Linked DNA regions of Homo sapiens: all the other regions are linked to region 1. Evidence: fine-mapped expression QTL. A gene starts in region 1. Each other region holds a variant in brackets. All regions are shown on one strand. Distances are from middle to middle. Region 1 holds the start of SNX8 (sorting nexin 8). Region 2 has its middle 72 kb from the start of MICALL2. Region 3 overlaps SNX8 (sorting nexin 8). Region 4 has its middle 18 kb from the start of EIF3B.

The links. PIP is the estimated chance that this variant, and not a neighbour inherited with it, causes the effect. A credible set is the group of variants that fine-mapping cannot tell apart.
Region 2: its variant is the best candidate, but not a certain one, in a credible set for the expression of SNX8 in esophagus mucosa (GTEx, PIP 0.79).
Region 3: its variant is the best candidate, but not a certain one, in a credible set for the expression of SNX8 in subcutaneous fat (GTEx, PIP 0.71).
Region 4: its variant is the best candidate, but not a certain one, in a credible set for the expression of SNX8 in whole blood (TOPMed, PIP 0.65).

The regions. Positions count from the first base shown.
Region 1 is chr7:2,313,084-2,315,762 of GRCh38, forward strand. SNX8 (sorting nexin 8) reads right to left here and starts at 1,358. Exons shown (of 11, transcript NM_013321.4): 1 at 1,245-1,358. The coding sequence starts at 1,338. RefSeq lists silencers at 1,034-1,273, 1,374-1,643 and enhancers at 1,462-1,962, 1,963-2,463.
Region 2 is chr7:1,385,697-1,388,375 of GRCh38, forward strand. No RefSeq gene overlaps it. Among named protein-coding and RNA genes, the nearest start is that of MICALL2, 72 kb to the right of the region's middle. The variant GGGCTCCCCTCCCCA/G (reference allele first, on the strand shown) is at 1,195.
Region 3 is chr7:2,268,617-2,271,295 of GRCh38, forward strand. SNX8 (sorting nexin 8) reads right to left here. Exons shown (of 11, transcript NM_013321.4): 5 at 943-1,023. Among named protein-coding and RNA genes, the nearest start is that of MIR6836, 12 kb to the left of the region's middle. RefSeq lists enhancers at 1,441-2,051, 2,661-2,679. The variant G/A (reference allele first, on the strand shown) is at 1,104.
Region 4 is chr7:2,335,110-2,337,788 of GRCh38, forward strand. It overlaps a transcript of SNX8 not described here. Among named protein-coding and RNA genes, the nearest start is that of EIF3B, 18 kb to the right of the region's middle. The variant C/T (reference allele first, on the strand shown) is at 1,530.

The DNA of each region.
Region 1 (2,679 bases):
AGAGACAGGGTTTCACCGTGTTAGCCAGGATGGTCTTGATCTCCTGACCTCGTGATCCGCCCGCCTCGGCCTCCCAAAGTGCTGAGATTACAAGCGTGAGCCACCGTGCCCAGCCATGTTTAGCCTCATTAACCCAAATCCCTTAAAGAGAAATACAAGAGGCCAGGCGCGGTGGCTCACGCCTGTAATCCCAGCACTCTGGGAAGCTGAGGTGGTTGGATCACCTGAGGTCAGGAGTTCGAGACCAGCCTGGCCAACATGGTGAAACTCCGTCTCTACTAAAAATACAAAATTTAGCCGAGTGTCATGGTGGATGCCTGTAATCCCAGCTACTCAGGAGGCTGAGGCAGGAGAATCGCTTGAACCCGGGAGGCGGAGGTTGCAATGAGCCGAGATCGCACCATTGCACTCCAGCCTGAGTGACAGTGAGAATCTGTCTCAAAAAAAAAAAAAAAAGAAAAGAAAAGAAAAAGAAAAAAGAAAAAGACAGAAATACAGGCCAGGCACGATGGCTCATGCCCGTACTCCCAGCACTTTGGGAGGCCAAGGCAGGAGGACCGCTTGAGGCCAGAAGCTCCAGACCAGCCTGGACAACATAGCAAGATCCCATCTCTACAAAAATAAAAAAAATTACCGGGCGTAACTGCACGCGCCCGTAGTCCCAGCACTTTGGGAGGCTAAGGCGGAGGATCACTTGAAAGAGAGAGAAAAGCAGCTACACATCTATAGATTCGGTTCACAGATGAGAAAACAGAGGTCCCGAGAGGTGAAATTACTGGCCCAAGACCACACAACCGACAGGAGCTTGGGAGAGAGGATGTGGCTAGGAAAGGCGCCCAAGTCCGGGGAAGTGGCCCCCAGTGCCATCGCTCAGCGTGACCAGGCAGGGCAGAAGAGCAGGGCACCAGGAACGGGGCGAGGAGGAAACTGTCCCCGAGGACGCCTCTGAGAGCCCCGGGAAAGCGCCTCGGAACGCGGCCAGCTGTAACCTGGACAGGGCTCTCCCGGCGCAGGAGGGCAGGGGACCCCGAGGGACGGAGGCGCGAGAGAGCACGGGGACCCCCAAAGGACAGGCGCGCAGGAGGGCAGGGGGACCTCCGAGGGACTGGGGCGTGGGGCCGAACGCGGGGCGCGGGGGCAGGAAACGAGTCGGGGACCAAGCGCGGCGGCTGAGCCCCGTCCGCCGGGGGTGGTCGGGCCGCGCGCCCTGGGCAGGTGGGGGCTACCGCCGCCCCACGCCCTACCTGACGCCGGGGGATCCGCCTCCTCGTCAGCCTCCGCCTCAGCTGCCGCCCCGACTGCAGCCGCGGGCAGCGGGTCCATCGCGCGGCCAGTCATGTGAGCCCGCGCTCCCACGTGACTTCCTCCCGCGCCACCCGGCCGCGCAGCCCTGCCGCGCCGCGCCCTCGCCCCGCCCACACCCCGCCTGGTCACGCCCCCTCCCCCGCGCGCCACGCCCACAGTCCGCCCCTGCGGGCCCGCCGCGCTCCTCGCCCGGCCTCGCCACGCCTACAACCCGCCTAGCCACGCCCACATGCCCCTCCCCGTCCACGTGGACACGGAGCCTGCTGGTGGCGCAGGTTACCTCCCCTCAGGTTGGACCTCCGGACTCGCAGGTGCACTACCTCAGGCGCAAGCCTGCACCCACCGCACCCTCATTCACTCCCATCTCTCCTCGCCCAGTCACGCCCTTGTTCGCTCATTCACCGGTTACACTGGGGTTTTCTGACTCGCACTTCCTCATTCATCCACTCACCCACTCATTCGCTCACCCACGCACTGCATCCTGCATTCATTCATTCACCCACTCACTCACTGCATCCTACATTCATTCATCCACTCACACACTCACTCACCGCATCCTGCATTCATCCAGCCACTCACTCACTCACTGCATCCTGCAATCATTCACCCACTCACTCACTGCATCCTGCATTCATTCATTCACCCACTCACTCACTGCATCCTGCATTCATTCATTCACCCACTCACTCACTGCATCCTACATTCATTCATCCACTCACACACTCACCGCATCCTGCATTCATCCAGCCACTCACTCACTGCATCCTGCATTCATTCATCCAGCCACTCACTCACTGCATCCTGCATTCATTCATTCACCCACTCACTCACTGCATCCTGCATTCATTCATTCACCCACTCACGCACTGCATCCTGCATTCATTCACCCACTCACCCACTCACTCACTGCATCCTGCATTCATTCATTCACCCACTCACCCACTCACTCTCTGCATCCTGCATTCACTCATTCACTCACTTATTGCATCCTGCATTCATTCACCCACTCACCCACTCACTCACTGCATCCTGCATTCATTCATCCACCCACTCACTCATGCACTGCATCCTGCATTCATTCATCCATTCACTCACTCACTCACTTACTGCTTCTTCATACGTTCATTCACCCACTCACTCACTGCATCCTGCATTCATTCATCCACCCACTCACTCATGCACTGCATCCTGCATTCATTCATCCATTCACTCACTCACTCACTTACTGCTTCTTCGTACATTCATTCACCCACTCACGCACTGCATCCTGCATTCATTCATTCACCAACCCACTCACTGCATTCTGCATTCATTCAGTCACTCACTCACTGCATCCTGCATTCATTCATTCACCCACTCACTCACTTACTGCAT
Region 2 (2,679 bases), 930 kb before region 1:
CCACTGTGTCCCGCTGCGTGATTGGGCCCTGAGGGTCCTCACCTTGCAGACCTCAACGTTTTGTTGACGTTCAACTGTGTGGCTGGTTGTCGGTTTATGTGGCCGGGGTGGGTGACTCTTCCCTGCCTGACGCTGGAGGGGTCTACACACAGGGCCCCGCGTAGACCTCGCACGCCTGGGAGTGTGAAGCCAGGAAGGGACCCCTGCTACAGACCTTCCCACCCTGCCCTGCAGCCTCTGGGATTGAGCGGGTCACCCTCAGAGCCTCCTATGCCGCAGGGAGCCAGGAGAGGGAGCTGGGGGGACAGAGGGGACCCCCCTAGACACCAGAAGGCCAAGTGGCTGCAGAGGCCCCGCCTCCTCCACCCCTCAGGTGTGATGGAAAAGGAAGCTTACAGCTGCCCTTGGCAGAGAAAGGATAAGAACCGCCTCCCTCATCAGTGCCCGTCTGACGGCCCCGGCTCGGGGAAGTCACGCGTCGCTCCTGAGCCACGCACAGATCCCCTCGAAGGCTCCCGAGAGCAGGTGCAGCGGCCGGCAGGTGGACACACCGCCCACACGTGTGCATGGAACACCTGCTCTGTGCCTGCGGCCGAGGAAGTGGGACCCACTGTTTCTCCCTTGACTCACTCTGGGCCCGAAAACTCCAACATTGTGGCCCCACCCCCAGGGTCCTGCTCCAGGCCTGCACCCCGACTGTCTGCTCCCCACAGGAAGCCCTGACCCCACCTCCCTGGGCACCGACGGGTCAGGGGACAGAGTGGCAGCCTCTCCTCCGGGGCCGACGTGTGTGGCTCTGACACGGGGACTTTGGGCTCCAGACAGGGGGCGGGGGACCTCGGGGGTCCTGCAGCCACCCCGGTCTCTACGACTCTACAGAAGCTGCTCTCCAGCCTTCAGTCACGCCTGACACTGCTTCCTTCCCCTGTGCCCGGGGAGCCGGTCCCCAGAGCCACCCTCTGCTGGGGATGGTCCCTGAGCCCCGTTGCCAGGCAACCACCGGGTGCACCCAGGCAACCGCCATCCCGCGTCTGGCCTGGGCTTCGTGTTTCCACCACGTCAGCCCCAGTGCCCGGAGCGGCACCCAGCTCAGGGCCCAGCCAGCCCTCCTGGCCACAGCACCCAGGCAGCGGGGCCCTCAGTCCTCCCCGCCTCGTGTCAGCTGCCAGAGCTGGAGTCCAGGGAGACTGATGT[GGGCTCCCCTCCCCA/G]GGCTGCAGACGGGCCTGGGTCACCGGGGCAATGGTGGCCTGGTCAGGGAGCCAGGCATGGTGCTCAAGTCCGTCTCGGTTTGCCCTGTGGGCCTCCTCTTCCCTCTCCCGAGGACAAGGCGGGTGTCGTGGTCACCTCCAAGGGACAGGGGTGCTCAGCCTGCTCTGCCGTCCTTCAGCGTGGAGGCCTTGTAAACTGTGAAACTGCCCCCCGGCCCGTGCCCCAGGTCTCAGCAGCTGTGAAAGCCATGTCTGAGAAATTGTACAAACAGCCACAGCTGTATCCCCATCAAAATTGGTTTCAAAGAGCAATTAGCACTTCATTAATAATCAATGAGGTGCCAATTTACACATCGCCCAAGAACAAATTGTGGATTCAGTTTGGCCAGGACAGGGAGGGCACTGGTGCCAGCCGGGGAGTGGCGAGGAGGGTCCCAGCGTGGGGGAGGGGTGCTGGGCTCCCACAGTGGTGGTGGTAGGAGGGCAGGTGGGGACGCCACAACGCGCCTGTGAATGAACTGATGCCTCCCACCTGTGGGGGCCAGGTGTCTGCAGAGGCCCCATCTCGTGCGCCCCTCGCGCAGGATGGAAAAGGAAGCTTGCGACTGCCCTTGGCTGAGGCAGAACCCGAAACCACCTCCCGGCCGGGCAGTGGCTCACGCCTGGAATCCCAGCACTTTTGGAGGCTGAGGTGGGCGGATCATGAGGTCAGGAGATCGAGACCATCCTGGCTAACACAGTGAAACCCCGTCTCTACTAAAAATACAAAAAATTAGCCGGGCGTGGTGGCGGGCGCCCGTAGTCCCAGCTACTCGGGAGGCTGAGGCAGGAGAATGGTGTGAACCCGGGAGGCAGAGCTTGCAGTGAGCTGAGATTGCGCCACTGCACTCCAGCCTGGGTGACAGAGCAAGACTCTGTCTCCAAAATAAAATAAAATAAAAATAAAAATATAAAAATTAGCCGGGCGTGGTGGCGGGTGCCTGTAATCCCAGCTACTCGGGAGGCCGAGGCAGGAAATCACTTGAACCTGGAGGAGGAGGTTGCAGTGAGCCGAGGTGACGCCACTGCACTCCAGCCTGGGCGACAAGAGCAAGACTCTGTCCAAAAAACAAAAAACAAGCAAAAACAAAAAACTAAAAAAACCACCTCCCTCAACAGTGTCCCTCCGAGGGGCCCCAGCTCGGGGTGGTCACACATTGAGTTACATACGGATCCCCTCGGAGGCTCCGGAGAGCAGGCGCGGCGGCGGGCGGGTAGACACACCATCCACATGTGCGCACGGAACACCTGCTCTGTGTGCGTGGCTGAGGAAGTGGGGCCCACTGTTTCTCCTTTGATTCTCACGGGGTAGGTGAGGCCTTTACTGAGCACCTGCTGTATGCACACCACCCTTCACCCTTCACACAGGGGCTCCCCACTTCACAGCCAAGGATGCGGGGTCCAGTGAGGGGAGCTGGGCTTGACCTCAGAC
Region 3 (2,679 bases), 44 kb before region 1:
CCAGCCAGCCGCCCCGTCTGGGAGGTGAGGGGCGCCTCTGCCCGGCCGCCCCTACTGGGAAGTGAGGAGCCCCTCTGCCCAGCCAGCCGCCCCGTCCGGGAGGGAGGTGGGGGGGGTCAGCCCCCCAGCCCGGCCAGCCGCCCCGTCCGGGAGGTGAGGGGCGCCTCTGCCCGGCCGCCCCTACTGGGAAGTGAGGAGGCCCTCTGCCCGGCCAGCCGCCCCGTCCGGGAGGGAGGTGGGGGGGTCAGCCCCCCGCCCGGCCAGCCGCCCCGTCCGGGAGGGAGGTGGGGGGGGGTCAGCCCCCCTGCCTGGCCAGCCGCCCCGTCCGGGAGGTGAGGGGCGCCTCTGCCCGGCCACCCCTACTGGGAAGTGAGGAGCCCCTCTGCCCGGCCACCACCCCGTCTGGGAGGTGTGCCCAACAGCTCATTGAGAACGGGCCAGGATGACAATGGCGGCTTTGTGGAATAGAAAGGCGGGAAAGGTGGGGAAAAGATTGAGAAATCGGATGGTTGCCGTGTCTGTGTAGAAAGAAGTAGACATGGGAGACTTTTCATTTTGTTCTGTACTAAGAAAAATTCCTCTGCCTTGGGATCCTGTTGATCTGTGACCTTACCCCCAACCCTGTGCTGTGTCCACTCAGGGTTAAATGGATTAAGGGCGGTGCAGGATGTGCTTTGTTAAACAGATGCTTGAAGGCAGCATGCTCGTTAAGAGTCATCACCACTCCCTAATCTCAAGTAATCAGGGACACAAACACTGCGGAAGGCCGCAGGGTCCTCTGCCTAGGAAAACCAGAGACCTTTGTTCACTTGTTTATCTGCTGACCTTCCCTCCACTATTGTCCCATGACCCTGCCAAATCCCCCTCTGCGAGAAACACCCAAGAATGATCAATAAAAAAATAAATTAAAAAAAAAAAAAAAGAAAAAAAAAAGAAAAATACCTTGGCCCTGGTAGCCAGCTTACAGTTCAGGAATTCGTCCCCGACGCACTGTGCTGACTCCTTTAACTTGTTCTGCACATCCTGCAAAAGGAAAACACACAGCTTCACCCTCTTCTACTAGCAGCAAGAAAGCTGCTGTGGGGTATGGGTCACTGTGGAGC[G/A]GGAGGTCGTCTTTCCTCAGGAGAAACACATTTCCATATGTTGGCTTTGACATTAGTATTCTGCAATCTCTTGACTCTCCCTTAGATGTTTTTCTCACCAAACAGGACAGCCTGGCTTCACAGCAGGAGCACCACAAACCTGCAGCCTCTCTCCAGAGGCACAGCCACTCCATCCGCAGACGGGGGGCAGCTCTCCAGAGAAACAGCCACTCCATCCACAGACCAGGGGCGGCTCTGCAGAGAAACGGCCCCTCCATCCACAGACCCGGGGCGGCGTCAGCCCCAGAGATACCTGAGACCCTGGTAGCTTCCAAAAACGCAATAGAACAGGGCAAAAGTGTCTTCCTTCCTGGGAATGCATCCATGGCGCCAGGGACACCAGAGCCCAGGGAGCTGCTGGGCAGAGGGACAGGCCCAGCCCCTGGCACCGGAGCCCTCTCATCTGAAAGAGGCCTCCTGGGCAAAGCCGTGCCTTAAAGTCAGGAGCCACCCAGGAGATACAAGGGGAAACCCTAATATGCAGCTGTTTGCGTGTCCAGGAATTCTCAGGTTTCAGAGATGCCTTAAAGATCATCTGACTCAACTCTCATTTTACAAAAAAAAAAAAAAAAAAAAAAAAAAAGACCTGAGGCCCAGCATGGTGCGTGCCTGTAGTCCCAGCTACTCAGAGCCTGAGGCGGGAGGATCGCTGGAGCCCAGGGGTTCAGGGCCAGCCTGGGTAACATAGTGAGACCCCATCTCTAAAAACAGAAAGCAAGCAAGAAAACTGAGGCCGGGAAGTGACAGAGAATGATACCTGTGGGAAGGCCACAGGGAACGTCCTGCCCCCAGAACAGGGATATTGCCCACCTGTGACCCACTGCACCCCTGCCCACCGCCCCTCCCAGGTCCTGCCACATTCCTCTGCTGGCAATGCAGATCGCCTCCAAAGGAAGGTTTCCAACCCCAGGGCTCAAAAGATCCCACTGCCTGCTCCAGACATCCCCGGGGGCATCCCAGGGACATCTCAGGCACAGGGGGAAGGCCCCTCTGCCTCCGAGAGGAACGAAGACAAAAGGAACCAAGGCTTGTGTGAAGTCAGCCTGGGAGAGGGGGTGTCTTCCTGCAGCAGGGACAAGGACAGAGGCCGTCAGGTCCCCATTCAAGACGGGGTTTCCCTGAAATAGAGGAGAGCCTGGAAACCTCTATTCCAGTGGAGCCCCCGCCCCTCCCCGCACAGGGAGAGGGTCCTGCAGGCACAGGTGGAGGAGAAGCACAGGACCCGCCTTCCCTGGAGGGGCTGGCAGCTGCTTCCTCCTCCAGGAAACAGGAGCTGGGCTGCAGGGTTGTTTTTTGTTTTTTTGAGACAGGGTCTCACTCTGTCGCCCAGGCTGGAGTGCAGTGGCACAATCACAGCTCACTGCAAGCTCCACCTCCTGGGTTCAAGCGATTCTCATGCCTCAGCCTCCCAAGTGACTGGGATTACAGGTGTGCACCACCATGCCTGGCCTCAGTTTTGTTTTGGTAGAGACGAAGTCTCGCTATGTTGTCCAGGCTGGTCTCAAACGCCTGGGCTTAAGGGACCATCCAGCCTCGG
Region 4 (2,679 bases), 22 kb after region 1:
CATTTGAACCCTGAAGGCGGAGTTTGCAGTGAGCTGAGATCATGCCACTGCACTCCAGCCTGGGCAACAGAGTGAGACTCTGTCTCAAAAGAAAAAAGAAAAAAAAAATAGCCAGATGTTGGAAACAAGCCAGAGGTTCATGAACAGCCAACGGATAAACAAATTGTTCTATGCTCATACAATGGATACTACTCAGCAGTAAAAAGGGGCAAACTACAGACACAGGCAACAAGGAGAAGCCTCTCAAACAGCATGCTAGCCGGGCGTGGTGGCTCACGCCTGTAATCCCAGCACTTTGGGAGGCCTAGGCGAGAACATTGCTTGAGGCCAGGAGTTCGAAACCCGCCTGGGCAACATAGCCAGAGCCCATCTCAATAAAAAAAAGAAAGAAACAATATGCTGAGTGAAAGTAGCCAGGCGCGGTGGCTCACGCCTGTAATCCCAGCACTTCGGGAGGCCGAGGCGGGCGTATCACGAGGTCAGGAGATCTAGACCATCCTGGTTAACACGGTGAAACCCCGTCTCTACTAAAAATAGAAAAAAATTAGCTGGGCGTGGTGGCAGGCGCCTGTAGTCCCAGCCACTTGGGAGGCTGAGGCAGGCGAATGGCGTGAACCTGGGAGGCGGAGCTTGCGGTGAGCCGAGACCGCGGCACTGCACTCCAGCCTGGGCGACAGAGCGAGACTCTGTCTCAAAAAAAAAAAAAAAAAAAAAAAAAATTCTACAGTAGGCAAAACTTGATGGAATTTCAGAAAAATGAATGTTAATTTGTGGTGAAAGAAATCAGAATAATGCCAGCCTGGCCAACATGGTGAAACCCCATCTCTACTAAAATTGCTAAAAATTAGCTGGGCATGGTGTCAGGCGTCTGTCATCCCAGATACTTGAGAGGCTGAGACAGGAGAATTGTTTGAACCCTGGACGCAGAGGTTGCAGTGAGTCAAGATCACACCACTGCACTCCAGCCTGGGTGACAGTGTGAAACTCCATCTCGAGAAAAAAAAAAAAAGGGCTGGGCACGGTGGCTCACACCTGTGATCCCAGCACTTTGGGAGGCTGAGGCAGGCAGATCACCTGAGGTAGGGAATTCGAGACCAGCCTGACCAACATGGAGAAACCCCATATCTACTAAAAATACAAAATTAACCGGGCATGGTGGCGCAGGCCTGTAATCCCAGCTACTCAGAAGGCTGAGGCAGGAGAATCGCTTGAACTGGGTGGCGGAGTTTGCAGTGAGCCGAGATCGTGCCATTTCACTCCAGCCTGGGCAACTTCAGCCTGTCTCAAAAATAACAATAATAACAAATTTTTAAAAAATGCTGGGCGTGGTGGCTCACACCTGTAATCCTAGCACTTTGGGAGGCCAAGGCAGGCAGATCATGAGGTCAGGAGTTTGAAACCAGCCTGCCTAACGCAGTGAAATCCCTTCTCTACTAAAAATACAAAAAATTAGCTGGGCATGGTGGTGCGCACCTGTAAACCCAGCTACTTGGGAGGCTGAGGTAGGAGAATTGCTTGAACCCGGGAGG[C/T]GGAGGTTGCAGTGAGCCGAGATTGCGTCACTGCACTCTAGCCTGGCTACAGAGCGAGACTCCTTCTCAAAAAAATAAATAAATAAGCCTGGGCACAGTGGCTCACCCCTGTTATCCCAGCTGTTTGGGAGACCAAGGAGGGCAGATCATTTGAGGTCAGAAGTTCGAGAGTAGCATGGCCAACATGGTGAAACCTCATCTCTACTAAAAAAACAAAAAAATGAGCTGGGCATGGTGATGCATGCCTGTAATCCCAGCTACTCCGGAGCCTGAGGCATGAGAATCGCTTGAACCCAGCAGGCGGAGGTTGCAGTGAGCCGAGACTGCGTTACTACACTCCAGCCTGGGTGACAGACTGAGTCCTTGTCTCAAAAAAAAAAAAGAAAGAAATCAGTATAGCGGTTGCCTATTGTGGAGGAGGGCGTGGGGGAATTTTGCCAGTGACAGAAATGTTCTGTCTCTTGATAAGGGTCACACCACTGTGCGTAGCTGTGAAGATTCTTTAATTTGTAGCATATAAGATCCGTGCATTCCAGCCCGGTGTGACGGGTCATGCCTGTAATCCCCACACTTTCAGAGGCCGAGGCAGGCAGATCACTTGAGGTCAGGAGTTCGAGACCAGCCCGGGCAACACAAGGAGACCCTAAAAAGTAAAACAATTAGTGAGGCGTGATGGCACGCACCTGTGGTCCTAGCTAGTTGGGAGGCTGAGGAGGGAGGATCACTTGAGCTCAGGAGGCAGAGGTAGCAGTGAGCTGTGTAATTGCACCCCTGCACTCCAGCCTGGGTGACAGAGCAAGACCCTGTCACAAAACAAAACAAAAGTCTGTGCATTTCCCTTATGTAAATTACACTTTAATAAAAATCAGTAATACATTTCTAGCCAAAAATCTCCAATGTATTTGGAAATGTAAAATAATCCATAATAAAATTACAGACTATTTGAAATTGACAATGAAAGTTCTACTTATCAGAACTCAAGGGAAGCAGACAGAGAGCAATGCCTGGAGGGAAACGTATAATCTGAAATGCAAATACGAGAAAACATGAAAGATTGAGAATTAATTAGCTCAGGGTCAATTTTAGATGTTAGTTAAAGAATCACAGAGTCAACCCCTTTATTACATTAAAAAAAAAACAAGTATGCAAA